Homo sapiens: one gene and its partners. The protein of the gene in region 6 purifies or fractionates together with the protein of the main gene of each other region. This does not show direct contact. Each region holds a gene or a part of one and is shown on either strand. Other genes may lie near its edges.

What was found.
Region 1: the proteins of MINDY3 (region 6) and ZNF644 purify together in Homo sapiens (affinity purification with mass spectrometry; 3 studies listed by BioGRID and IntAct, with this or other methods). This does not show direct contact.
Region 2: the proteins of MINDY3 (region 6) and IBA57 purify together in Homo sapiens (affinity purification with mass spectrometry, with the first as the bait; one large-scale study listed by BioGRID). This does not show direct contact.
Region 3: the proteins of MINDY3 (region 6) and RLIM purify together in Homo sapiens (co-immunoprecipitation; one large-scale study listed by IntAct). This does not show direct contact.
Region 4: the proteins of MINDY3 (region 6) and MCM5 purify together in Homo sapiens (affinity purification with mass spectrometry, with the first as the bait; one large-scale study listed by BioGRID). This does not show direct contact.
Region 5: the proteins of MINDY3 (region 6) and PKP2 purify together in Homo sapiens (affinity purification with mass spectrometry; 2 studies listed by BioGRID and IntAct, with this or other methods). This does not show direct contact.

The regions. Positions count from the first base shown.
Region 1 is NC_000001.11:90,913,934-90,918,602, forward strand, and holds the end of ZNF644 (zinc finger protein 644), read right to left. Parts: intron 4,222-4,669; coding exon 4,119-4,221; intron 3,058-4,118; coding exon 2,865-3,057; 3' UTR 1,371-2,864; downstream 1-1,370.
Region 2 is NC_000001.11:228,171,379-228,176,431, forward strand, and holds part of IBA57 (iron-sulfur cluster assembly factor IBA57, mitochondrial isoform 1 precursor), read left to right. Parts: intron 1-3,191; exon of another isoform or gene 3,192-3,232; intron 3,233-3,313; coding exon 3,314-3,651; intron 3,652-3,743; coding exon 3,744-4,135; 3' UTR 4,136-5,053. UniProt on the Homo sapiens protein: Mitochondrial protein involved in the maturation of mitochondrial [4Fe-4S]-proteins in the late stage of the iron-sulfur cluster assembly pathway. Operates in cooperation with ISCA2 in the maturation of [4Fe-4S] proteins.
Region 3 is NC_000023.11:74,582,290-74,587,342, forward strand, and holds the end of RLIM (E3 ubiquitin-protein ligase RLIM), read right to left. Parts: 3' UTR 687-5,053; downstream 1-686. UniProt on the Homo sapiens protein: E3 ubiquitin-protein ligase.
Region 4 is NC_000022.11:35,419,087-35,424,139, reverse strand, and holds part of MCM5 (DNA replication licensing factor MCM5), read right to left. Parts: intron 4,257-5,053; coding exon 4,128-4,256; intron 2,823-4,127; coding exon 2,680-2,822; intron 927-2,679; coding exon 799-926; intron 1-798. UniProt on the Homo sapiens protein: Acts as a component of the MCM2-7 complex (MCM complex) which is the replicative helicase essential for 'once per cell cycle' DNA replication initiation and elongation in eukaryotic cells.
Region 5 is NC_000012.12:32,791,505-32,795,818, forward strand, and holds part of PKP2 (plakophilin-2), read right to left. Parts: intron 1,228-4,314; coding exon 1,140-1,227; intron 989-1,139; coding exon 920-988; coding exon of another isoform or gene 775-919; 3' UTR 1-774. UniProt on the Homo sapiens protein: A component of desmosome cell-cell junctions which are required for positive regulation of cellular adhesion.
Region 6 is NC_000010.11:15,777,058-15,781,444, forward strand, and holds the end of MINDY3 (ubiquitin carboxyl-terminal hydrolase MINDY-3), read right to left. Parts: intron 3,910-4,387; coding exon of another isoform or gene 3,820-3,909; exon of another isoform or gene 2,792-3,819; intron 2,085-2,791; coding exon 1,935-2,084; 3' UTR 1,117-1,934; downstream 1-1,116. UniProt on the Homo sapiens protein: Hydrolase that can remove 'Lys-48'-linked conjugated ubiquitin from proteins.

The DNA of each region.
Region 1 (4,669 bases), on a different chromosome or scaffold from region 6:
GAAAATTAGTCAATACTGAATGATAAATCAGGCCATATGCTGACATAAAAATCTATCATGTAAATTGAGACAATATTTTATACTTTTCTTCTAGTGGGAACCAAATGAAAACATATTATTAATTTTCTAGTTGCCAAATAAAAGACGAATTTTGAATGCTTCCTAAAGAATTCTTTAAATTTTGTAACCCAAATATCTTTACTATGAAAAATGCTCTTTGCTTAATTTACTTTTCAGGAGTCACTCTAGTCTACTGTTTCTGATGTGAAATATTTTATTCTGATGACTGAATTCTTTATATAACTAGAAGGAGAAATAATTGTTTACATATAGTTCAACATATTTTAAAATTAAATGTAGTTTTGATTCCGAAACTTGTGGTCAAACTAATTCTTCTACTTGTATTCACACATGTTGATATTTGGCCTGATAAGACAAAATCATAGAAGTGTAAGAATTAGGAGGCCAGGTGTGGTGGCTCATGCCTGTAATCTCAACACTTTGAGAGGCGGAGGCGGAAGGATCTCTTGAGCCCAGGAGTTCAAGCACAGCCTGGGCAACATGGTAAAACTCTGTCTCTACGAAAAATACAAAAACTAGCCAAGAGTGATGACATGTGCTTTTAATTCCAGCTACTTGGGAGGCTGAAGTGGGAGGATCACTTGAGTCCTGAGAGGTTGAGTCTGCAGTGAGATATGATCACACCATTGCACTCCAGCCTGGGTGACAGAGTAAAACTCTGTCTTTAAAGAAAAAAAAAAAGAATTAGAGTGGAAAGGGGCTCTAGTGATTACTAGCCTTCCCACAAGATTCCTATGATTTTTGTTTGTTTGTTTGGTTTTTACTTCTGGACTCCACTTGCTATGTAGTATGTCTTCCAATTTAAAAATATATATTCAAAGACATATAACTATCAACGAAACTTGTTCAGTAAGAGATAACCAATATATACAGACTTGGTATATTTTCAGTCAAAAGTAAAGAAATGGGATGTTTTAGTTAGTTTTGTCACTATAGACAAATACATAGTTTTTATCGGGACTTTTGTAAAATTGAAAATAACTTACAAGTACTATTCCCTTATCTATTAACCTAAGGATCAGGAGACCCTTGGTTGGGAATGATCCAACTAGTCCAACCTTCTAATTTTGCATATAAGATGGCTCTGAATTTAGAGGTTTGATTAATCATGAAAGGGGGAAAATGATTTTTCTCACATACATTATATTGACCAATGAGGTGATTCTAGAAAAACTATGCTCTGTGATCCAAGTAACCTGGCAAGGATAAACAATTTAAATCCAATGAAACACAACCTGAAGTGAACTATTACCACCAATGATAAAAATAAGAAATGTTTCACATTTTAATTTTCTTTAAACCTTTTTTTATTTAGAGATTTTTCTGGTAAGGAGATATACCATAGGAAAGCAATTTCACTGGCAGTGAGGTATGTATATACTCTACCAAAATACTCCTTATTTTAACTGTTTTTAACTTTATTTACATACGAAGCAAAGAATCAATGCATATCCTTGGTTCAACTATAGTATTAGCCATACTACATGAAATAAAATGGTGCTTGCATACAAAAACTTGTTGTTTGTAAAGGAATCTGATTTCAGATTAAAATACCTAATTGTTTTTGGAAAAAATTTTTAAAAAGAATCACAATTTATCATGACCAAGACACCTGCACCATATTTTCCATTCCTCACAGCACATTTATTTCAGTAATTCTGTTATGTCGGTTCTTAGCATGAGCATAGTGTTACACGATTTTCGTACATATAATCACATCCAAAACAAGTTCTAAAATTTAAATTGTAAACATTCTCATATGTAGAAATATTTTAATTGGTGTATTAAGTTTTGCTAACTGATCAAATTTGGAAGATAATATAAATGAGAACGTCTATTCTAAACTGTGTAGTGAGCATTGTTTATTAATTACATTTCTACAATGTTAAATAAAGTAAGAGGCAAACCTGTCCTGTAAGCATGTCAAATTTTAGGTAAAACATTAAAAAGAAACAAACCTGTTAACAAAAGAATGTCTTGCAATAAAGAACATTAGATTTTTAAAATCTATTATGATACAAAAATGTAAAGGGTAAATAGCATCTTTGTTGACAAAGTAGGAGGTAGCATGGATGCACCACTTTATTGTCTGAGAAATGCAACTGGAGTAAAGAATATTTCCTTACCACAAATAATTTCCAGAACTATGTACATATTTCTTTTAGAAATACTTGTTTAAACAAATCTCCCTCCACTTTTTAGTATAAAAAAAACCGTTCCATGTGATTTTAAAAAAAACACTTACACATCTAGATAGAATAGTACTCTGCCCTATTTGAGTGAACAGTCTCAAACTATGAAGTACATGATATTTAATGCCCTAATTTGAGTAAATTTAGTCAGCGGTTCTTGGTATTATACAAAACACTAAATACATACAAACAAAATATAATATCTTATTTTTCTATGCAAGTCTTGTGGGGAATAAACAGAGCCTTGATTCTGGTAACACTGCAAAAAACATAATTGTCCAATAAGTCTGTCTATAAGTATCCATGTGCAACAGTTTATTAATGGCTGCTTACATGTACTGCTCTTTTACTGAGTGAACACAGTTAACCAACAAAACTTCATAAACCTTAAAAACACATCTTCCACCCTATATAAAATATATAGACTACTTACTGTTTTAAGTATTCAATTTGCTCTGATGTCACTGTAATTCACTTTCCCCCCATTTTCCTGCTTTAGTATTTATAAACAGATAATTTAATGTGGCTTAAAAAAAAAGAATTTCAAATTTACATCCAATTCAAACTGGCTATTTAAAAGGTTTCCTGGTTCTATGAAGCTGCTTCGGCCATTAGTAGAGAAAATGAAGTTTCTGTAATGGAGGCAGGCTTTTTAAGTAGTGACGTGACTTCCACCATGCCAGCTCCAGTCCGTGGAAGATTAGCGTTTACAATATGTCGTTGTAAGTGCTTAATCCAGTCTTCCTGAACAGACAAGGGTCCTCGAAAGACTAGGCCACAAAACCTACAGAAAGATAACAATTCTCTTAACATGACCAATTCTCTTTCTTTAAAACTAATTCACACAAAATCCTAAAACATAAGGAATAAACTTTATCATATTTTAAAGACAGCAATTGATAAAGTTTCTAAAGTCAAATGATTTAATAAAACATCAAAACTCCCAATTCATATGTTTATTAACAGCTATAATAAACTCCAGTAATCTTTGTATAGGTGGGAGCATTATTATTTTAAAATTAACATCTACACATCTTAATTCACTTGAAACAACAACTATTACTCCAAAATATGTCATTCTTTAGAAAAGACCCTTCCCCAGTTTAGCATTCCTTAAATGGCATTGTGTCTATGTTTCTTCATGTGTGTTGTGTGTGAGTGTGAGTACGGAAGAAGGCGTGACTATGAGGGGAGAGAAAATGTGTTCCCAATAAGCGAGAACTCAAGACAACAAAACATCAAACCAAACAAAATTAAACCATACAAACCAAATAAACACAAGGAAAGCCAGTTTTTTTTTCTTTTTTCTGAGACAGAGTCTTGCTCTGTCGCTCAGGCTGGAGTGCAGTGGCACGATCTCGGCCCACTGCAACCTCTGCCTCCTGGGCTCAAGCAATTCTCCTGCCTCAGCCTCCCAAGTAGCTGGGATTACAGGCACCCGCTACAAAGCCTGGCTAATTTTGGTATTTTTAGTAGACACGAGGTTTCATCATGTTGGCCAGGCTGCTCTTGAACTCCTGGCCTCAAGTGATCCACCCATCTTGGCCACCCAAAGTGCTGGAATTACAGGCATGAGCCACCACACCTGGCCAAGCTACTTTAATAAATCACAGTATAATAGATTTACATTACTATTGGCTAATGTAAAAAACTTGATTCATTAGTTGTTGAAGTACGGATATTGTGAGCTGAATTAAGATTTTAAGCCTATCTCCAAAAGTTCATTTATAACTTGATTGTTGAGAATGCACTCTGCCACAAATTAAAAATCCCAAATGAAATAGCTAATATGTTTCAAAGCAAAGTATGAAGAAACTGATCAGATTTGGCAATATAGGCATATACCTGCATCGGAGAATGTAAACCTCGTCAGCACCATGAGGTAATGTTAGCATTTTCTTCTTGCTTCCAGATCTTGACCTTGATTTCTTTTGCTTACAATCTAAGGCTAAAAAGGGGAAGAGAAAGACTTAACATTCCTTATATATTTCAAAATATACATACACACATATTTTTCTAGAGAGGTCAGACAGACCATCTAAATCAGTTAGAAAAAGTCCGCATTCATTTCCCTATTCCCTGAAGCATGCATTCAACTTGCTGATTCTGTAATAGCAGTAATATTATCTGTACTGTACAGCGGTATTATCTGTACTGAAGAATACTATCTGTATTCTTCCTATACTGCCTTTTCAAATAATGCTTTACCACACCAAACTAGAACTGAGAAAATGTAACTAAATAACTTGAAAGTACTAAATTGGTCAATTATTACAATAATGGTAATCTTTACTTTTATAATCATACATAATTTTAATATCTGGTTTAATCTTATTTCCAGAAAAGTAGAACCTTTTATTTGAGATCATTAAATTAAGTTTGCATTTGATTACTGC
Region 2 (5,053 bases), on a different chromosome or scaffold from region 6:
GTCATGTCCCAGCTCAGCTGGTCCTGAGAAGCTGCCTGGTAGACAGTCACCGGCACAGAGAGCTGGAAAGTGCCCTCGACCCCAGAACCTGGGTCCTGTGAGGACATCCACCCTGTGTGAGGCCAGGGAGTGCTCAGCAGATGGGGGCAGCAGGGGGTGTCAGCATGGGTGGGGGTTCCTGCCAAGGCAGGCAGCTGAGCTGGCCCCACCTCAGAGTGCAGGGGCCCTCAGCTTGATCTTTTCTGGGCTCCACTCTTGACTGATGGACCCATGGGGCACCCTGGCCCCACCCTGCCTGCCTTGCCCCAGCTCCTGCCCTTGCCCTGTAGGGCTCTGCGGCCTCCCCTGTGCCTGTGTGCCTGGCTCACTAGACCCTGGACCTGTGGTCCCTCAGCTCCACTCTAGTCCCCTTACTCTGTCCCTCTACTGCCTGGCGTCGCTCAGCTCCTCCCTGCCTGTCCGGCGCCCAGCATCCTGTGCCCATGACCTCACATCTGTCCCTCTGCCCGGGTCCCCCACTCACCTGTGTTTTGGTCCATCTTTGTCTGCTGACCCCACTATAGATTTTAAAAATACAAATATGCATGCACGTGGTTAAAAACTCGCTGATGTCAGATGGCTGGGATGAAAGGACTGCCTGCTGCCTTTCCTCTTGTAGTGCTCGGACACCTCTGCAGGCGAAGCTCCTTGTTTTTTTTTTTTGTTGTTGTTGTTGTTGTTTTTTCACTTCTTATTTTGAAATAATTATAGATTCACAGGAAGTTGCAAAAAAAAAAACAAAACAAAACCCGTGGGAGAGATCGCACGGACCCCTCCCCAGTTCCCCTGATTGCACACACAGGGCATATCTGGGGTCTCTGGATTTGTGTGTCTTACTTTGTGCGTCTGTGCACGCATGTGTATAACTGCAGTTTTATCACGTGTGAATATCTGTGGCCATTCTCAGGCCCACGCGGCTTCCTGCTCCTGCCCCTGAATGGGCACCCCCAACACCCCAAAACCTGTTCTCAGCTGTAAAATCGTGTCATTTCAGGAGTGTCATAGATGGATGCATCGGCCTGTCACTTTTTAGCCTTACCCTTTTCCCTCACCATAGTGCCCTCAGATCCACCCACTTCTGTCCATCTCCAGCTCCCTGTTCTTGCTGAGAAGTCCCACATGGTGTAGTGGCACCTTGATTCTCCCTTTCTGGCTGTTACCAGTATAGCTGGCTGCTGTGAGCTTTCGCTGCAGGTTTTGTGTGAGCTGCAGTCTTCGTTTCTCAGTGATCCATGCCCGGAAGTGAGAGGGCCAGGTCGTGGAGTAGTTGCTTGTTTGGTGTTGTGAGGACCTGCACCCTGTCTTCCAGAGGGCCACCCGTTTTGCCTCCCCACCAGCAGCATGCCAGTGACCTGGTTTCTCCTCATGCTGGCCAGTGTTCAGGTTCACCACTGCATCTGTCTGGGCCACATCGCCTGTGTTTCCCTGGTGGCGTGGTGACCTTTCCGCGGCACACCTGCGGCTGCCCCTCTGTGCTGTCCTTGCTGTTCCTCCCGTCATCTTAGCCCACGTGTGTAAATGACATATGTTCCCCTCCCTTGTGGGTGTTGTTTTTGATGTCCTGTGACCGCTGTCCTGGAGTGTGGGCCAGATTCACTGGCTGTCACAGCTGGCTATGCCCACCCTCCCTGCGGCAGGGTCCTCAGTGAGACCTGTGCCTACTGGTTCTGGGTGATGAGCGTGAACGTTCTCCGTGGCTGCTGGCACGTGGGCATGACCACAGGGTAGAGTGAGACTGCAGAGATGAGGGCAGCAGGCCCCTGCTTGGCACCTGAAGCCCTGGGCAACTGGCAAGGACTGAGCCCTCTCCTGGCTGGAAGGGGCTGGGCCACCTGCTCTTGGGCTTGTCTCTGGAAGGCCCTCTGGGGGTCTTACTACCTCCCTGTCTCAGCTCCCACCAGCCTGTGAAGCCCTGTGCAGTCCATACCTGCAATCAACCCCAGCCATGGAGGTGGCTGTACCCCAGGTGTCTCCACTTAGTGCCCCCCCCCCCGACATGCCCCACGCTGCCCAGCCTCTCCTCTTCCCACCATCCGTCTGGTCAGGGGTCATTCTTGTGGTGCCTGCCCAAATCCTCTGAGGAGGGCTGCCTGGAGTGCAGGTCAGAATGGCTCTGGGGCCCCGATTGGGTTCTGAGACTTGGCTTGGGGAGGCAGGTGGTGGGCATGGGCAGAGTGGGCCTCAGGCATGCTGTACCTCCCTGACAACCTCCTGGGCTCCTTGCTCCTCCCTCCTGCCCACCTTAGGACCCTTGGGCTCCTCGATGGCTTCCCTGGGCTGGAACAGGCAGGTCTGGTTCTCAGTGGCTGTGCACACCGTTCCCCTGCGGGGCCCTGCCCATCCCTGCTCCCACATCCAGCGGACTGTTGTCATTTCTGCCCTAGGCTCTGGGACTACTCCGGATGATGCCCTCGGGCAGGCTATTGCAGTTCTGCCAGTCCCTGGGCAAACAGGGTCTGTCTGCGCTGGCCCCTGTGAGCTCGTCTTTGCCTGCTTAGACGAGAGCTCCGGAGGCTCAGCTGCGCACGGCTGTGGGCAGGGCTTTCCATGCGCTGGTCCAGGTGTACCCTGCCTGGCCTGCTGTGCGTTGTCTGCACGCACCCTCGCATTGCTGTGGGCGCGGCACTCTGCGCTGGTCTCCAAGGTGCCCGCATCTAGCTGTGATGCGCGCCTTGGGAGGTGCTGCCTGGTGTGGCTGTGGGCGTGGCTCGCTGTGGGCGTGGCTCGCTGTGGGCGTGGCTCGCTGTGGGCGTGGCTCGCTGTGGGCGTGGCTCGCTGTGGGCGTGGCTCGCTGTGGGCGTGGCTCGCTGTGGGCGTGGCTCGCTGTGGGCGTGGCTCGCTGTGGGCGTGGCTCGCTGTGGGCGTGGCTCGCTGTGGGCGTGGCTCGCTGTGGGCGTGGCTCGCTGTGGGCGTGGCTCGCTGTGGGCGTGGCTCGCTGTGGGCGTGGCTCGCTGTGGGCGTGGCTCGCTGTGGGCGTGGCTCGCTGTGGGCGTGGCTCGCTGTGGGCGTGGCTCGCTGTGGGCGTGGCTCGCTGTGGGCGTGGCTCGCTGTGGGCGTGGCTCGCTGTGGGCGTGGCTCGCTGTGGGCGTGGCTCCCTGCGTGTGGTGACCTGGGCGCTTGCCTTAAAGGCGCAGCCCCTTGTGGCTGAGGGCAGAGCTCTTTGCGTTGGTCCACGGTGTGCTCCTCTGCCCGGGTAAGGCGCGCTCCCTCATGCAGCCCTTTCTGGCCCACTCAGTTGGTGAGCTGCCATGCGCCCCTGCCTCTCTCCCTGCAGGCTCCAGGAACACTCGGAGGTGTCTGGCTTCCTTCTGGAGTGTGACAGCTCGGTGCAGGGCGCGCTGCAGAAGCACCTCGCGCTATACAGGATCCGGCGGAAGGTCACGGTGGAGCCGCACCCGGAGCTGCGAGTGTGGGCGGTGTTGCCCAGTTCCCCTGAGGCCTGCGGGGCTGCATCGCTGCAGGAGAGGGCAGGGGCTGCCGCCATCCTCATCCGCGACCCGCGAACAGCACGCATGGGGTGGCGGCTCCTCACCCAGGATGAAGGCCCAGCCCTGGTGCCCGGGGGCCGGCTCGGGGACTTGTGGGATTATCACCAGCACCGATACCTGCAAGGTATGGGTGGGGTGGGCACGCTGGGCTGGATTGCACGGGTGGAGCTGGACGATGTTCAATTCTCGCTGGTTTCCCCCCTCCAATCCCTGCAGGCGTTCCTGAGGGGGTCCGAGACTTGCCTCCTGGGGTGGCCCTGCCCCTGGAGTCCAACCTGGCCTTCATGAACGGCGTGAGCTTCACCAAAGGCTGCTACATTGGCCAGGAGCTGACGGCCCGCACCCACCACATGGGCGTCATCCGCAAGCGCCTCTTCCCTGTCCGGTTCTTGGACCCCCTTCCCACCAGTGGCATCACCCCTGGTGCCACGGTGCTGACTGCCTCAGGACAGACTGTGGGCAAGTTCAGGGCTGGCCAGGGCAACGTGGGGCTGGCCCTGCTGTGGTCAGAGAAGATCAAGGGTCCTCTGCACATCAGAGCCTCTGAGGGTGCCCAGGTGGCCTTAGCCGCATCTGTGCCAGACTGGTGGCCTACAGTCTCCAAGTAGTCCGAAGCCTTGGCTGGCGCAGGCTGATGGGGAGGCTGGGGCCTGGGGCCTTTGGCCTCTGTCCAGGGTCTTCCCGTCCCATCTGTCTGCTGCGCCTACTGGGTGGGAGCCCTGGTTTCCATCTGGGAAAGTCCCCCTTGTAGGTGCCCTGCCTGGCCCCACCCATGCTCAGGGGCCCCAGGCACGTGGGTTGTTTTCTCCCTGGACTTCCTGTGGCCCCAGAGGAGCCCACCGTGTGAGTGCTGGGCTCCAGATGGCGCCGGGTCCCAATCGTGGCTCCACACAGGGTTGTCTGGGAGGACGGGACGGTGTCTCTGGCCAGCACTGGCAGCTTCCGGGCCTTGTACCCCACTCTGCCTGGCATGAGCCTCATGGGGGGTTGGTCCCTGTGCCTGGAAGCGGGGTGGTGTCCAGGGTCTGCAGGCTGGGGCTCGGGCTTTGGGAGTTGTTTCACTGTGCTTGCTTCCAGCATGTCTCAGGGTGGGGCTATGCGTGGTCTAGAGGGGTCTGGGGCATTGGATCAGGTGGCATGTGGGTGTCTACACATCGAGAAGCACACAGGGATGAGCCACTAGGTATCCCATGCTGGAGGCTTGTGGAAGGCTGTGCCCATCTCCCATGTTTCCCCACCTCTGTTCCTCCTCAGAGCCCTCCAGGAGCGTGGGGTGGGGGCCAGCGCAGGGCTCAGGAGCCAGCAGGGCAGAGTTCTGCCTGTGTGTGCTGGGTTTTGGCATAGCCTGTGTTTGCAGTGAGAGTGACTTGCTGTCAGTCACGGGGCACAGCCTCCTGTTCACCCACTGGCTTCCCCCTTCCCACTGAAGTGTGAGCTCTATGTTTCAGGGCATCTATTAAAGAGTGAGCCACAGGCAGCCCCTTGGGAGCTCTGGTTTCATTTGGGGGAGAGGGAGGTGGGGGCTT
Region 3 (5,053 bases), on a different chromosome or scaffold from region 6:
GCTATCTCGGCTCACTGCAACCTCCGCCTCCCAGGTTCAAGCGATTTTCCTGCTTCAGCCTCCCGAGTAGCTGGGACTACAGGCGCATGCCACCACATCCAGCTACTTTTTGTATTTTTAGTAGAGGCGGGGTTTCACCATGCTGGCCAGGATGGTCTCGATCTCTTGACCTCGTGGTCTGCCTGCCTCGGCCTCCCAAAGTGATGGGATTACAGATGTGAGCCACTGCACCCGGCAGGGCATAGTTTTTAAAAAGCTGCAATTTGAATCTTTCTAGTCATTTCATATTTCAAATTGTCATAATTGGGGCCAAGAGCACACGTAATAAGGGGCTGAGATGACCATTTAACAATTCCCCAATTTTTGTTTTTGTTTTCACTGTTAAAGAGGAATTTTTATTAAAGCAAGAATTTTATAATCCAAATTACGTTTCCTTGCTCAGTTATTAATTCTGTTACTTAAAACAGAAGTGACATTTTGAGCTATTCCACAGTAAAGAATTACAAAATTAAAGAAAGGAATGTTTTATATTTTTGTACTTTGCTGAAAATTCTTTTTCCCAGGGTCTATAAAACACTAATTTGTTTCTATATTTTACTATTTTTTTTGTGTTTTTTGTTTTTCAATCAATTAATCTAGGACTAGCATTATGTTTGCTAGACCTGGCATTTGCTCGGTACATACGGTTCAGTTTCCTTCTTTTATATTTTGATATTTTTTTCCATATTTAAGTTTTTCGATGTTTAGATATTTTTCTTTGGTGAAGCACAAGTTTCTTTTCGTGGTCCCTGATCAATTTTAAACAGTTGGAACACCGGTGGCACTGTTAACTGCTTTCTGGGCAGTCTCTTTAGCTTGGTGGGCTTGTAGTACAGCTACAGCTTCATCAACCTTAGAATGGAGTGACTCTGGAGACTTGAGCATATGAAGAAGTTCTGAATTATCAATCTCCAACAACACGCCAGTGATTTTACCGGCAAGAGTAGGGTGCATGGCTTGAATAAGAGGAAACAGCCATTCACCCAACATTTGCTTTTGCTCTTGAGGGGCAGATGCCAACATGGAAACAGTCAAAGGTTCCTGACCTTGTACATGAATAGCAGGCTGTTGCACTGTAACTTGTGGCTGTGCATTAAGATGTTGCTGAGGATTGCAAACTCCCGCAGCATATTTATACTGTGGAACGGTGCGGACAGCAGGAGTAGCTGCAGCAGCTGTAGCTGCAAGACGTGGACCCATTGTCTGTGTTGATGAATTCACCAAATTTTTATTCCAGTCTATTTTGAGACTTCTGGAAATAAAACACCTTGATACCGTTTGCCCTAGGGCTGATTACAAGGTACACTTAAACTGCTAAAATGATAGTTCATGTTATTCATAGTGCTAAGGTGTATCTGGTAATGCCCAGTGCTTTACTGAATTTACAGTATATTACCATTAATCCTCCAAAAAACAAAAAAACAAAAAACAATTTGCGGCCGGGCGTGGTGGCTCACGCCTGTAATACCACCACTGTGGGAGGCCGAGACGGGCAGATCATGGGATCAGGGGTTCAAGACCAGCCTGGCCAACATGGTGAAACCCTGTCTCTACTAAAAATAGAAAAATTAGCTGGGCGTGGTGGCGGGCGCCTGTAATCCCAGCTACTCGGGAGGCTGAGGCAGGAGAATCGTTTGAACCCAGAGGCAGAGGTTGCAGTGAGCCAAGATCGCACCATTGCACTCCAGCCTGGGCGACAGGGCGAGAATCCATCTCAAACAAACAAAAAAATAAACAAAAACCAATTTGGCCTTTTTTTTTCTTGGCAAACCAGCCAAAACTGATGTTTTTCCTAAGAAATCACACCTCATAAGCAATCTAGTCTAGGGCTTGGGATAAATACTAAGAAACAAATTAGAAGTCATATAGTAGTGGGATTAAGAGCACAAGGAAGATGACTGCATCAAAGATGATTGCAAATAATCTGCTACTTACTATGTGACCTGGGCAAATTACCAAACATCTGTATCTCAGCTGCATTACCTATAAAATGGGTGGTATACTTTCACCTCACAGTCACTGTGATGATTAAATAATTTATATAGAATACTTAATACAATGCCTGACAGCAACCAGAAAAGTTTAGCTAATTTAATTATAGTTAGTAATCCATGCAAGGCCTTATAGTTAAATCTTGTCTAAATTCAAAGACCTCAAAGAAACTGGACCCTTGCTTTCTTATTTTTTAAAATGACCATTAAGAGTTCAGTTTATAATCCACCCAGATTTATCGAATCCTTTCTTCTAGGTATCTGGGGGTTTTTTTGAGACAAGGTTTTGCTCTGTAACCCAGGCTGGAGTGCATCAGCATGATCATGGCTCACTGCAGCCTTGACCTCCCGGGCTCAAGTGATTCTACCACCTCAGCCTCCCAAGTAGCTGGGACCACAGCTGTGTACCACCACACCTGGCTAATTTATGTCTGGATCCTTTTCACTGACCTAAGATGCCTGTGCTTTGGCTTCATTGTCTAGAGCACTAACTTTTTGATGGTGGTATTGAGTTTCAAATAATAAAATCATGAATGACACTAAACTTAAAACCTTGGGAAGGTCATGAGTTGAAGAGCTGACTACATCAAAACTATCCTGAGAAACCGAGTTATGATGCCAATGACAGATAGCTCTGCAGGCACCAGAGGAAATGAAACTATAATACAATACACCAGGTGTCACAATGTGACGATTTACTTGAAACAAGGACATCTTAGTGGCTTAAGCAATATGTTTAAGAGATTAAGATAGAAATGGAAGACAGAAGTACAAGCACACGTGCACACCTACAAGTTTTTGTATATATACAGGGCAAGCAAGGGAGTGGTCAGAGCAATGGCGAGAATACAAGAAACAGCAAAGATGCGCCTACTTAAAATGTCATTCACATAAATCTTTCCAGGATTCTTGTATTGGAATATAATCTTTTATTTTACCACTCAACGATTAAGCCATTCAACTACACAACACAGATAAAACGGAAGTTATAACATATAAACCAGTACCTGCCCACACTCATAGCAGTGAGGGGAATAAAAATCAAGGTTGCACTGTAATTCCATGACTCTAAAAATCAAGTCTATTTGACATTGGTTTGAAGCAACAGAACCTTTATAGCAGATTCCCCTTTTTAAAGAAAAACCCAAGGAGAGATGATCAAGCACAAATGATCACTTCATGCATTTTATTGATAGTCTATATTTTAAATCTGCAGTATGACATCTTACATAGGGAAAAAAGCTTCTTCCTAAAAGATAACTATTAATAATCAAACCAGCTTTAATATGATTGACCTTTCAAGGTCTTGTTTTGCTTTAAACAAGTTAACTTTTAGCAGTTGTAAAGCACTGTACAAAAGAAAACTGTGTACATTCTCAAAATTTAATACAGGGCTTCCCAACCAGGAGTCTGCTGGATAGGTATCGGAGAAGGGTGTTATGTTCAGGTTTAAATTGAAAGAAAATGAGAAACCAGATAAAGCAAGCCAACCAAATTAACTTCACTTTGTGCTCCTCTCTGCTTTTTTGAGTCTCTCCCGAAGGTCAGGAAGCCCTGGTATAACAATCACTTTAGTCTTTACAGAACATACATCTATGTGCTTTGTGACCAAAGACATAAAGGCAGCCTTTGTTACTGTTCCCCCTCCAAACCCCTTCAGGTTCTTATAAGCTTCAGAAAGCTTTCCAAGATTGCTGCCCTGTTCTTTGTATGAATCCAAGTAAACAACTATACCAAAGCAGCTCTTCCTGGGAGAAGATAAAACAGGCACAGATACATCACCAGGCCAACTGCGTACCTACTCAACTTGATACCTGATCACATGGCCCTACATCCTTAAAAGCAGCACCAGGGACAAATGGAGCTATCAAGAGGTAAAATCCAAACACTGGACAGTTAAAACACATACAAACCAGTTAAAAGAACATTAGTAATGGGGCACTAAATAGAGTTAAGGCTGGACAGCTGGTTCAACCATACCTTGGTATTGAAATAATTCTGCAAGATGAGGAACTTACAGAGGAACCTTGAAAGAGGCACCATGATATGACAGGGTTCACTTTCACTGCATGTCTTTAAGATATCTACTACTCAGCCCAACTGACCATAAAGCAGCTCGTGGAACTTTAATAAACAAATCCTAATAAAAATAAATAATTTTTAGAATGTTGGAGGGTATGCCTATTTCCTTCAGATCTGATCAAGACATGAGAATTATAAAACCGATACAAACTGTTCTGTGATTATCACTTGACAGTTCTAACACTGTTATACAGCTCAATTCTATGCTGCAGCCTTTAAGATACAAACTGGGGTTACATGAGATCACTCACTTGTTAGAGAAGTATCAGATAAATTTTAGAACTGTTCCAGTTAAGGAAAATAATTCTTAATTTCATAATCCTAAAACTTTTTCTAAAAATTTTTGCAGGGCAGGTACTTAACTCATAGCTGTTTTAGTTGATTAAAAAATCTGATTTAAAAATAAGTAAGGCTGGGCGCAGTGGCTCACGCCTATAATCCCAGCACTTTGGGAGAATGAGGCAGGCAAATTGCCTGAGCCCAGGAGTTCAAGAACAGCCTGGACAACATGGCGAAACCCCATCTCCACAAAAAATTAGCCAGGCAATGTGGTGCATGCCTGTAGTCCCAGCTACTTGGAAGGCTGAGGTGGGAGAATCACCTGAGCCCAGGAAGTCAAGGCTGCAGTGAGCTGTGACCATGCCACTGCACTCCAGCCTGGGTGACAGAGCAAGACCCTGTCTCAAAAAGTAAAAAATAAAATAAAATAAAAATAAATAAGTGACATACTAGTTCCTCGGATCTTTTACTTTTTTCCAAATGAAGTATGCTGTCAATTTACATTTTTCATGTTTTTTCAAAAGCACACAATTTACTAGTTAACTCAATGAATTACAATACTGTTATTGAATATAAACATACTGAAGAATTAAAGGGAAAAAAACACACCTGACACTTTAACATGTGCCTTAACAATCTTGCATACTAAGGTACAGAATACT
Region 4 (5,053 bases), on a different chromosome or scaffold from region 6:
GGCTGGCTAACGGCACGTGCTGCCCGAGGGGACTCCGACAGAGCCCAGACATCCCCAGGCTCACGGGGAACTTTGTACTCAGGCTCCTTTGACCTAAAGGGCCCACACTTCCTGAGTGCCCACTGTGTACCAGACACTGAGGCACACGGAGGCTAAGCCACTTGCTCAAGGTCACAGCAATTAAGAGGTAGAGCTGGGACTTAAGTCCCATCTGACTCTAGAACCGAAGCTCTAAACCTTTCTCTAAGCCTCAGTCTGCGCACCTATAGAATAGACACGATACCACCCATTAAACTGCCCTGAATCAAAATGAGATGATGTACAAGGAGCGGAGACCAGAAACTAGGATTAATCCTGAGATTTTAAAGGTGACAGGTTTTCCAGAGCATCTGGGAAATCCCATCTTCTCTCTATGGGGCCAACAGTACCCTCCTCAGTGAGCCAGAAAGCTCACTCTCATGGCTCTGCCCCTTCCCACTCCATGAAACGCCCGCCAACGGGGAAAGGCACAGACGGGAAGGGCTGCGGGGAACTTGTATGGGGTTTCACCAGAATCCAACCACCTCTGCTCTCCCCTCCCCTTCGTGGGACAGAAAAAATACCCCCATCCCTGCTCCTGATGAAGATGTCCCTAGGGAAGGAATGATGGCTAGAAAAGGTCTGAGAAAGGGACAGTTGTCCATCCTACCCCCGTTCAGGGCCTGTCTGCTGAGTAAGATGCCAGTGCTGAGTGGGTGGGAACCAGCAGAAGACCTGCACCCCGTGCCGGCTCACACCCCCACTCCAAGGCAGGCTCACCTGCTTGGTGAAGTCCTTGATGATGCTGTGCTCAGACACCTGGGAGCCAATGGCAAAGCGGCGCTTGAGCTGCTTCTCGATGCGGCTCAGCATCTCCTGGTCCTCCTGGCTGGTGAAGCCCTCCACCCCTGTGGGCATGGAGAAGTGAGGCAGCCGGGGAGCTGGGACAATGGGAGTTCTTGGACAGAGACAGCCTCTAGCCCAAGGAAGAACAGCCTGAGCCAGGCCCCGAAGAGTAAGTCAGAAAAGGGCACCGAGTGTGCCAGGGTGGTGCAGGCCTGATTGAGGAGACAGGATATGGCACATGTGGGGACACTCCAGGCCAAGCACAAAGTCACAGAGGCAGGAACACACCTGTCTCATTCAAAAAGCAGCCCGGGGCCCAGCGCAGCAGAGACATGGCCAGAGTGTCACTAGGGACCAAGTCCTGCGGGCCCTTGGAGGCCACAGCAGGACTCCTTTTGTTGCTGGAGCAGATAGATTAGAGAGAGAGTTGGAAGGGGCCCATCAGTGACCCAGGAGGGAAGCCAGCCTGCCCTGGACACATCTACGAGGTGCCCTGAGGAGCCCTCGGCAACCAGGAGGCTCGTGACTTCCAATTACTGCCACAGAGGCCTTGGTGTTTCAGCTAAGGAGATGGTGGGCTCATGGTCAAGAAGTCATTGAGAGGGGAGTCTGTGAGGCAAACTCCTACATAGCCCATAAGACCCAACTCAAATTATCACCACTCCATATCACCCCTGCCCTCTGTGCCTGCAGCATCCCAGAGGCCTCCACCTGCAATGTCTCATGTGACAGCAAGTGTCTCCAGGGTAGAGGCTGAGTCTTCACCAAGGGGGACAGGAGGAACAGGCCCCACCCACCCCATTCCTCACCCAAGTGCCTCCCCATTCAAATGCACCAAACCTGCTCCCTCCTGGGGAAACTGACACTTAGCGCTGCCTCCACCTGAGCAGCTCTTCCCCCAAGGAGCCACACTGTCCCCTTCATGCAGCTCCCTGCTTGGCATCACCTCCTTGCAGAGGCCATGCCCACTCACTCCATGGGAAAGAGCACGTCCTCCTTTTCCAACACACCTGGCCCTGCCATCATCTCCCTCACTGCCTTTTTCACTACCTACACTACCTGCATTTGTTTCTCTACTGTCTATCTCTCCCCAACTAGAACGAGAATGAGAACCCAGGAGGGCCGGGACCCTGTGATTGATTGCTCTTATACTCCCAGCACCTAGAACAGTGCCTGGCAAACAGTAACACTAATGAAGTATCTGCTGGGTGAAGGAACAGATTTTCCCCAGCGTAGGTAGCCTGGCTCATGATCGGTGCCTGGGACAGTCTGTTGAAAGGCTGACCGAAACCAGACAGTATGGCTTATGGTGTGGAAAACGCTGGCCTAGGGGCCAGGAGACTTGCATTCCAGCCAAGCGACTGTGATCTTGGGCACCAGGGAAAGGCCCCTTCGAGTGTCAGCTGTCTCATTTCTAACATGGGCAGGACTGACTGCTCACCTGGCTTCCAGGGGGCAGCTGTAAGGCAAAATGCAAGAAATAACTCTGGAAGCACTGAAAATGCTGACAAGCTCTAGGAAGCAGAGCATCAACTGTTGTTCCTAGCCAGTGAGAAGGGTTATCATCAATGACCTGGGTCAAGAGGATTGTGTTCAAGGGTCTGGAGAGAAGCTGCTTCTTCCCATCTTGGAGGAAACAGCGGTGGGGAGAAAGGAGGAGAGGGGTCTTATGGCAAAAAGAAACTCAGAGAAGCTCAGCAAACTCAGAGAAGCAAGACACACACTGCAGGCCCCCAGCAGGCCAGAGCCCTGCCCACAGAGCTCCGAGCCAGGGAACCCAGATCAATTGAGACCATGGCCCCTGCATCTGCTCACCTGACAGGGTACCGGACAAGGCAGCATCCAACGTGGACACTTGGAAGAGCCGCAGGGCCTCCTCCACATCTGCCTCTGTGGCGAAGGGCTGCAGCTTCATCTTGCTGAGGGCTTCCGCGATGCGCACAATGGCCTCCAGCTGCCTGTGGGGGCAACAGCGTGCTCAGGGTAGCCTCGGTCCGCTATTCCCTTCCTCCCCAGCCAGCCCGTTACCAGGGAGGTGCTTGCCCAAAGTGGTAAGACTGTGGTGGAGACTGCTAGGTGTCCCCATAATCCATCTCCCTTTTGATCTTAGTCATAGAACTGCAATTTTTTTTTTTTTTTTTTTTTTTTGAGACAAAGTCTCGCTCTGTGGACCAGGCTGGAATGTAGTGGCATGATCATAGCTCACTGCAGCCTCGAACTCCTGGGCTCCAGTGATCCTTCCACCTCAGCCACCTGAGGAGCTGGGTCTACAGGCATGCACCACAATGCCTGGCTAATTTTTTATTTTTTGTAGAAATGGGAGTCTTGCTATGTTGCCCAGGCTGGTCTCAAACTCCTGGCCTCAAGTAATCCTCCTGCCTCAGCCTCCCAAAGTGCTAGGATCACAATGTAGGCCACTGCACCTAGCTTGGAACCCCAGTTTTTAGTCTGGCACACAGCGATCCACTAAAACACATCCCAGACATCTTTTGTACCAGGTTGTATTTGTGTGACCAATCTATGGCAGTAAGTTGTAAGTCCAAGCATTGTGTGGGACTTCATGAAGTGTCCTTTAAAAGGGAAGCTCTCTTTCCTTCCTGTCCTGCTGCCTGGAGGTGATGGCTGAAGTTCTAGCGGCCATCTCGGACTAAGAGTAAGGGGGAGCTTGAGGAGTCCTCACACCAGTCCCCATACCATCTTCCTCCAGACAGTGCTACAGAAAAGAGAAATGAACTTCCTATTTCTTTAAGCTACTTTATCTGGATTTACCATTACTTATAGCCAAATCCATTTCCAACCAGTCAGTGCTGGAGACAGGATTCAAACCAGGTAAATCCCAACTCTTACCCACTGTATTGTCTACAAAGTCACAAGAATGAACAGAGTTAGGAGCTAAAAGCACTGAGGGCCAGAGAAGGAATGTAATTTCCCTACAGTCACACAGTGGGCTAGAGGCTGGGACCCAAGACTCTTGACTCCCAGGCCTGGGTCCTTCCCTCCCTTCGGGCTTCCTACAATGGGAGAAGCCAGGCCAAATTCAGACAAGAGGGGTCTAGGTTTGCCCGGCCTTAAATCAAGAAACATGGATCATCATTGAGATCAAGGAGGCCATAGTTTATGCTCCAAAGGGACTCTTCCTGCCCAGAGCTACTATGGGCCTGTGCCAAGTGAAAAGCCTGGACCACTGCCCCTGGTTGCCAAGCACACCCTGCTGTGTAAAGCAAGCCCCATCTGCCATGGCCCAGCCCTGCCCGCCTGCTCACCGCACAGTGATGGGGATGCTGGAGCGGCGGTCACTGTCCCTCTCGTGCTGACGGGCCCCGCTCCGCATGATGATGTAGCGGTTCTTCAGTTTCTCTGCAGCCTCTGCTGACAGCCGGGGGCCACACTTCCTGCAGGACAGTGGGGAGAGGCTGGTGTGAGGCCAGGAGGGACTCTTAGGGCACCTACCCTTTCCCCCAGCCCCCTGCCAGCTTACAGACATGCACTTTCCCACCACACCACAGCTGCCCACTCATATGGGCTGGGGGACAACAATCGGAAAAGATTTAAGTGAAATCTGGCTGTGGGCAGCTGCCACAAACATCAACACTGGGGAGAAATATGGGTGCCTCTCTTAAAAAACAGGTGAAGAAAAGCCAGGCACGTCTGCAGGGTGAAAACCGCCTCTTCCCCACTGTTAGACGCTGTGTGGTGTCTTGCCACAAGGTCCCCCATACATGTAATGAACAATGGCACAATCACAGCGGCATGGAGGCCCACTGGGTGGTGGGCTTTGCAGCAGTCTCAAACTCCTCCACCCAACACATCTGAAGACACGACAAGCTGATGACACCCACAGGAGGCTTGGCGGTGACTGCAGTCCAGGGGCTGGGAGCACCTCAGACTCTCCTGGGACGGTAGGTGTGGGGAAGTCTGATCAGCATCTACCCTATCCCATCCCCTCCCCTCTAGCCCCCAGGCCAACTGACAGTCACTGATGTAGGGAAAGCCTTAGCTCAACCATCCTAAGGATGTGGAGACTGAGACCCAGAGGGAGGGAGGGAACTCCCCAAGGCTACCTGGGGACTTAGTGCAGAGGGAAGATTAGAATCCAGGGCTCCCTGACTCACAGCTGTGGGCCCAAGCCTCTCAAGACTGGGCCACACAGAGCTCAGACTTGGATGAAGACCCAGGGACTACCCACTCA
Region 5 (4,314 bases), on a different chromosome or scaffold from region 6:
ATAAAGATAGAGTCCATTCTTTCACTAGTCCAGGGCAGTGGCCAAAAAAGTCCAGGAAAGGCATTACATAGAATGCCATCGTTTAGAAGAGATTTGGATTTAACGGCGTTGTTATAGGTAAAGTATCTCCTGAGAAAAATCTCATTGACTCAGTGTTTGGGGGAACGTTAAATTTTATCATCACAGTTGCCTTTCTCTGTGGAAAAGATTTTATTTATTTATTTATTTTTTATTTTACTTTAAGTTCTGGGAGGAAAAGACTTCTTTAATTTGCTATGATCACTTCCTCTCAATTTCTTTTTCTTACAGTCATGCATACTCTGTAATCTAAATTTCTTAAGTTTATTTAAAAATCAGAGAAAAACAACCCAAGGGGATAAAAACAAGCACAAAGTAAAGAAAGAAACCAATAATTTTGCCATTATACTTTCTCCTGGATAACTGCAGATATTTCTTGTCATTTCCATTCTGTTTCAACACTGCAGAACAATACACTGGAGGCCCAATGGCGAAGCAATGTGCACATGAGTGACAAAACATGGGAACCAGAAAAGGAATATAAATGTAAATCAAACTTTTAAAATCCCAGTAATGCAACAGCTTCTTTCCTTATTTATTGGATTAATGTCCCTTCCACATGAATTCACATTTTGATTCCAGGAAGCCATGTACCATAAGCCCTAATAACAAAGACCACTATTTGTCGAGCCTGTGGCCGGTATCTACTGGTGGCAAACTTGCAAAGGTCTTCTGGAAGACTCATAAAATTATGTTCTATTTGTTTTCTGGATTCAGGGGACCACGGAAATAGAGAAGGATAGAAACAAGGCATGCTTTTGAGGTTTCTTGGGCTGGGTAGTAGAAAAATAGGTGTTTTCCTTTGGGGATTTTTGCAGCCGAGAATACTTTGTCATTTTCCTCAGTCTTTAAGGGAGTGGTAGGCTTTGGCAGTCCGGCTGTTGACAAAATCTGTCTTCTTAAACTGAGCCTTTGGAATAAGCAAACAGAAACGTGAAAGGTAACAAAACTGGCACACAAGAAAATGCAGTTTTTTAGCGATTTCTTCCCAGGGTCAAGTCAAGTGGGCCATTATTACCTGGCTCTGTTAACTATGACACATTCCTTGTTCATGTTCTTACCTTCTTGTAGGCATGATGCAGTTCCGTGTGTGCCCACAGAGAATACAGAAGGACGGAAGCAGCTTTACTTGCTTTGTTGGAGGCATAGCTGAAAAGAAAAGGACATTCTGAGATCAGGGAGAATGAGTGAGGCTTCTGGATGCGGCCTGTGGGTGTTCTGTAAGACCTCTTCGCTCCTCAACTGCTACTCCGCAGCAGCCATCCATGAAGTCAGGCCACTCGGTGACCAGACAATTAGGCAGCAAGCTCTGCAAGGCGGGGACCATATCTGTTTTTGTTTTCTTTTTAAACCACTAGCACAGTGCTAATAAATAAATAGTTTATAGGCCAGGTGGGGTGGCTCACGCCTGTAATCCCAGCACTTTTGGGAGGCTGAGGTGGGTAGATCACGAGGTCAGACCATCCTGGCCAACATGGTGAAACCCCGTCTGTACTAAAAATACAAAATCTAGCTGGGCGTGGCAGTGTGTGCCTGTAATCCCAGCTACTCGGGAGGCTGAGGCAGGAGAATCACTTGAACCCGGGAGGCGGAGGTTGCAGTGAGCCGAGATCACGCCACTGCACTCCAGCCTGGTGACAAAGCTAGACTCCATCTCAAAATAATAATAATAATAATAAACAAACAAGTAATTTATACAGAAAAATCCCTGATATTTATAAGGAATGTATCTTTAGATATGTTATAAATCCTTGAATTATTTATAGAATATAATCTATATTTGTATACTTATAATGTATGTTTATAGAATAAAAATGCATGAAACCATGACTGAAAAATACATACGATTTTGTGACATCATGAATGTAGGAGTAATTTTTCAAGTCAATAAAAGAAATTCTTGTGGCAGCCCTTGTTAAAGCAGTTTCAAAATCTCTTTACGTTTCCATATAGAGCAAATGGAAAACTTGTTCTTGCTATAAATCAAAGTCACCACTGCATTTGAACTGTACTTAGTCTTTCATATTCTGCTTTTTTTTTTTTTTTTTTTTTTTTGAGGCTGGAGTGCAGTGGAGCGATCTCGGCTCACTGCAACCTCCGTCTCCCAGGTTCAAGCGATTCTCCTGCCTCAGCCTCCGAAGTAGCTGGGACTACAGGCGCATGCCACCACGCCAGGCTAATTTTTTGTATTTTTAGTAGAGATGGGGTTTCACTGTGTTAGCCAGGGTGGTCTCGATCTCCTGACTTCATGATCCGCCTGCCTCGGCCTCTCATAGTGCTGGGATTACAGATGTGAGCCACTGTGCCCAGCCCATGTTCTGCTTTTAACTTTATCCTAAATGTCCCACCTCTGGCTTAGATCAGTGCCGCCTTAGATCTCTTTCTCTTCTATCACCTGATTAGCACATGGCTGATTTTTTTTCTTAAACAAAGATTCTTTTTCCCCCCATATCACAGGCATTTGTAAACATAAAACCAAAACCAGAGAGTGCAAAGATGTACGGAGAAGAGCATGGTGTGTTCCTTCAAGAGTGAAAAGTCTTTCTCCTCCATACTAGCCTGGCAGGGAGGAGCAGTCAAATCAGCACTTATTAGTAACCCCTGGACTTTTCAGAATCACTTGGTAATAACTGAAGGGCAAATAAATCCATCAAAGTGATGGGTCTCTAATATTCAAAACTGTAAAAAGTTATTAAATTGCAAGGCTGTTATATTCATAATATTTGTTTATAAGTTGGTTGTTTGATACTTGGTACTCTTTTATTCAAAGATGTAATGTTATAAATGATAATTAGTTCCCAGGCTAGTCCACAAACGGTAGGTCAGATATATAACACTCTAGTAAGGAAAGAGCAGCAGACACCACTGGCAAGAAGCTCCTTGTTAACTTTTGTTTTTGAGACAGGGCATGTGAGGACTCACAAGTGGACACTCGGAAATAAACAAGTAACAGAGTAGCTCACCCCTTATCTTGCTAAGCTACCAGAAGTTTCCAAAAGTAATTGCATATTGCCATGTGCAACAATTGTTATGTCTGAATACTCGAATAATGAGCATCATACTATCTTACGGTGATTTGCTTGGAAGTTTGGATGACTATTTGGAAGAAAAGTCATTTCTGTTTTGCAACAGTAATTCACTCTTTCCACAAAGACTGAGCAACTCTAATACTATCTGCCAGCCTCTGGGGATGGGTGAATATTCTTGGGGAACTGACACTCCAGCCAGTGCTCAGGGCTTGTTTTAATCTGACTCTAAATGCAGTCTTCCTTCCTTGTGTGCACTGCAGAGTGGGGCTGCAGAGCAGAAGGGGCCTAAATTGGGTGGGGCTGTAGTAGAGGTAACATGTACATCCCTGTACAGCCAAGCACACATTTCTTCAGTACAGGTGAAGTCATCTGCTTTGTAACTCATTAAAACTAGGCTATCATAGCCATTTCTTTTCTTGTTTGGTTATTTACAAAAGTAACATATCTATTTGTAATAAGTCAAACAATTCAGAATTGTATAAAGAGAAAAAGATAATCTTCATGCCCCTTTCCAATCTCATCACTCTAAATTAACTAATAGTAAATAATTTGGTTATACAAGGTTTTTCATTCTCCTCCTTTTTTTTTTTAATAGGGAAAAGTTGAAAACAGGAACACAGATGTGGAATGACATGCATTGGACCTTCTATTATCAAAAGGGAATAAGATGCGGAAGAGATAAGACAGAGAAAAAACTGTGAAAGCAAGACTTTCTCATCAGGCTACCCCCTGACTGCTTCTCCTGTGTCATCACTGCTGCTGCTGCTTTTTTTTTTTTTTCTTTTTTGAGACAGAATCTCACTCTGTCAACCAGGCTGGAGTGCAGTGGCACGATCACGGCTCATTGCAACCTCTGCCTCCTGGGCTCAAGTGATTCTCAAACCTCAGTCTTCCAAGTAGCTAGAATTACAGACACGCACCACCACACCCAGCTAATTTTTGTATTTTTACTAGAGACAGGGTTTTGCCATGTCGGCCAGGCTGGTCTCGAACTTCTGACCTCAAGTGATCCATCTGCTTGGGCCTCCCAAAGTGCTGGGATTACAGGCATGAGCCACTGTGCCCAGCCCATCACTGCTTCTTCTAAACCACCTGGTGTGACATCCCCTCCTAAGATGGAAGTGAGGAAAAGGGCACTTGCCTATTCAGAGGACTCCTGCTTTGCCTACATTCTGCTGTTATTAAATCACAGCTGTGGCTTTGGGAA
Region 6 (4,387 bases):
AATTCCCATTGCAATTTCTCTTTGACCCTTTGGTAATTCATTAGTGTGTCACTTAATTTCCAATCTTTTGAGATTTTCTAGACTTACTTTATTGCCAGCATATAATCTAGTTTGGTAAGCAGCCCAAGTGCATGTGGAAAGGAAATGTTCCCATGGCTATTTAAATGTAGTGTTCTACAGCAATGATATCAAGCTAAGGTCCAGTCATGCTTGCCACGTGAGTAGAGACAGCTTCAGAAAATTCTAGCCCCTGGCTGCTGACTGAAGCAGACAAGCCATGCATCCCCACCTTGCCCCGTTTAGATTCCTGAGCAAAGAATTTGTACATTTAATCAAATGGTTGTTTTATGCCATGAAGTTTTGGGATGATTTGTTGTGTAACAATGGTAAGAGGACCATTCTATTTCATAGGCTTGATGTTTATGAGACAATCTACGATTTTGTGTAATCCTTTTGGAATTTGGGATTATTAAACCAGAGTTTTGAGAAACTAATTCTAGCATTATATATTTTATACAGATTTGGAAGTAGCCTAGACCAAAATATTGACATTTGAAAGCTGTAAGTTTAATAAGTAGTATCATACTCCTGAACAGAATGTCACCAAAAGTTATACACAAAATCTCATGCCTTTCCCTATGCTTAATTATATTGTAATTGTGTGTGTGTACGAAAGAAAACAAAACCCAAACAGAAATTCACACAGGAACTATACTATTGAAGGTAATGTTCAGTTCTGAAATGTGTAAGAGGATACTACATAATTATCTGCTTTACACGTGGCTTTACACGTGGAGGAAAAAAAGTATTAATGGCTATGTGATTTTAAATTGCTGGGCCACAAACCTATCAGAATACAGCAGATCTCTCTCTCAAGTAAACGGGCTTCTGCATCTTTGCTCACTGGTCTAGAAAGCTGCCATGTGGGTTCTCATGCTTCTGGCTGGCTGAGTTAGCAGAGCTCTTAGGTTAGCATAAGGCCTGGTCTCTTATTCGAGGTCCTGTATGACTTAGCCATTTGTAGTACTCTGTGCTCTCAGGGTTATTGGGTAGAAACATTTAGAAGTACGTATTTGTTTATTTTGAGCCACCAATGTAAAAAATGCAAGGGTACAGTTAAAGAAAAAGGTGTTTATTTAGGCCATCAACTAGGATCATAATAAATAACGTAATATACTAATGTAATAACAGATCTTCTCATGCATTTATCGTGTTTATAAATATAGAAGAAAGCTGGCTTACAGGGCTGTTGGGACAAATTTGGAAAAGTGTATTTGGCAATTACACAGTAAAAGTTAACAGTGTTGACTATCAGATTCTCTTTTCTGTCAGTTTTTAGAATACATCCCCTATACATCTGTGAATAAATGGTAATGGTCTCTTAGAGTTTCTACTTTTTGTGAACATGCCAGAGTTAAGTAAATTGTCAAAGGATCCAGGTTGACAATGTGTTATTTGTCAATATTTCTAATGAAAAACAGATCTTAGAAAAATGAACTCTTCTGCATTTCATTGTAGAGGCTGATATATTACAAGCCGGAATCATTCAAACAATAAAAAAAGTGCCTCAATGAAATAAAACCCAAAAGTAGTTTATCAATAGTAACTGTGATACTTAATATACAAATGCTGTAGTATTGCGTTTGTAATTTGGTAAGTAAATGACCAAGTATCTGAATGCAAAAGTGATGAACTTTGATGAAAGCTTAATTTTGCTAGTAAATTTCACACGAAGGGGTAAAATAGGATAATCTTTAACATAAAGCTTTAGGACAAATAATTTAAACATATCATAAACACTGAAAATGTGTTTTTAATTGTTATTTACAGTTAATCAGTGATACCAGTGTTTAGCTTAATCCAGCCAATTGCCAGTCTTGACTCCTTCTTTCAACATCTGTTATTAAGATCTTCCTTATAAATACTTAGACAAATTAATTTAGTGAAGGAGAGCGATCTGTGGTCCAGAGTAACTCAATGTATGGCCATTTGGTTTGCAGACAGCGTTTAATAGGAGTGTCATCTGTCTGTAGCATGGGATCTTCAAAACCCATCACAACTGCAGTCCCTTCTACGTACATGACCTGTTGAACAAAATAAAGCCACCAAGGTCAAGCAACAGTCTTAGCAAATTCTTATGTGGAATGAAAACAATTTTTAGAGGCTAGCAAATAAGGTATTACATAGTTTCAGATGAAACTTGACATGTAATTTTATTTTGCTAGAAATGAGAAGGAATATCTGCTTACTGATTAATGTGAAAGTAAATTTGTAAACGATATTTAATTGCTAGCTGGCCAGGTGATTTTTAAAAAATTCAAGATCATGTGAATCCTAAAACACATAGATTGTTTCTAAGAAAAAAAACATTCTTCAACGGATCTATACCATCGGAAAGAAATGCTTAATTATCATATTTACATATAATTTATACAGGTCCTACTGCTTTAATACTGAGGTTCTCAGATGCTCATGCTGCCTAATGAAACGGAGAGCTATAAAAGGAATATAGCTATTATGTTCTGAGGAACATGTGTCTCCTTCTAATTTAAGTATTGAATTTCTAGAGCTGAAACCAATTTGAATGTTTGTCAACAAAACTTGCTATTATGGTATTAAATATTCCTGAAATGCAATTCATGAGTGCATTCTGTACAGCATGAAAAATCATGGAGAAAAAAATTAAAAAGGATGTCAGGACAGAAAGAAAAGTAAAAGAGACGTTGAAAGATCAAACTAACCAGATACTGTATATGCAGTGGCAGTGATCACAGAAATATATACTGGCAGGTGAATAGCAAGAAAAATTTTATTCTGATTAATTTACAATGAAACATACTTAAAAAGTATTTTGGACATATCAACAAAAACCCTAACTCATTACCAAGGGCTCACTGTGGACATTAAGGCACTCCTTGGTGGTTAATTTCTTTTTTGTACCAAGAGAAATTCTGATGCTGTATAATTTAAAAGAAACAGATACAGACGACTGTCTTCTTCCAAAGTGTATAAAATTATTTTTACACATTCACTGGCTGATACACATGAGTGTAATTATGTTCTTCCAAAATAAAAGCCATAAGCTATTTAAGGAGCCAAAAGAAACAACTTTATTATCCTTAAATGGTAGTTGCCTCTAAAACACATTAAATATAGGAATAGAATATATTACTAGATCAGATAATCTTGTGTCATGAATCTACTCATTCCTAAGAAAGTGCTAAAGATACATTGTAACGTGAAATACATTTTTTGGCATCTTTATTTTAGTTAATATATTAGTTTCTAGTGTTGATGAAATAAATTGACATTGAAACTACAACTCGGGCTTTTCAGTCCCCAAAGCAAAACTGCCTTCTCTGAAAAGTTATACACAAAGAATATAATTCAAGTTATTAAGTTAAATACAATCGGCCCTATTTTTCACAAAGAACTTCATGTACTCATGTCATTAGAGCAGAAGTGCTTGGGCAAGGTGCCATGACCCACCTCCATGGCCTCAATCAGGCTCGGATGCCTGGCGGCTCAGACTCCATCTCACTTTGCCAGCATTCTCCTTTTGTCTGTTTCCTTTCTAACAGGACCTTGCTATGCAGCTTATAATTTTAGCTCCTGATTAACTTCAAAACATATTTCTGTGACTTAATGACATCCATACTTTGCTTTATAGCTGCTGTATATTACTGTCATTTTAACAGTTCATCCTATTTGTTTTCTAATCTTTTTGTTGGTGTGTCAGAAGCTTGTCACAAACATGATTTGAAAACTTATACTACATACAGGTAGAGTGGCCAAGCAGACCAAGGACAGGATTGGGAATCAGGAACTCAGTTCCAATCCCTGTTCTGCCAATGACTTGCTGTGTGACCCTGGGTGAGTCACTTGATCTCCCCGTCTCAGATGCCTCATCTGTAAAATATGGATAATATTTGACCTATCTTGCAGGGATTGTGTAGGTGAATAATTAGTGATTATAAAGTACCTCCTATTACAAAGCTGTGCAAACATCAAACTCTAGATGAAGCACTCATTCGCACATTAGAAAACAACATCCAAGTTTGCATATATATATACATGCAAAGAATATACATTGTCAAGAAAATTTGGATGCTGTATATATATATCTTTGGACCTGACAAAAACATCTAATTTATATTTTGTTATAAAGATAGCAGTAAATTTTAGTCTTTTAGATTTGGTCTAATTAAAATTATGTACTTAATTTACACTGTTTTCTGTAACCTTCCACAATTTAGATACATGAAGTCAGCATGGGCAGATCAAATTAAAAAGGAATGTTAGACCTTATTCCTTTAATATTAGCTATAACTAATACATATATATTATATATATATATATATACTATAACTAGTATGTACTGTAACTC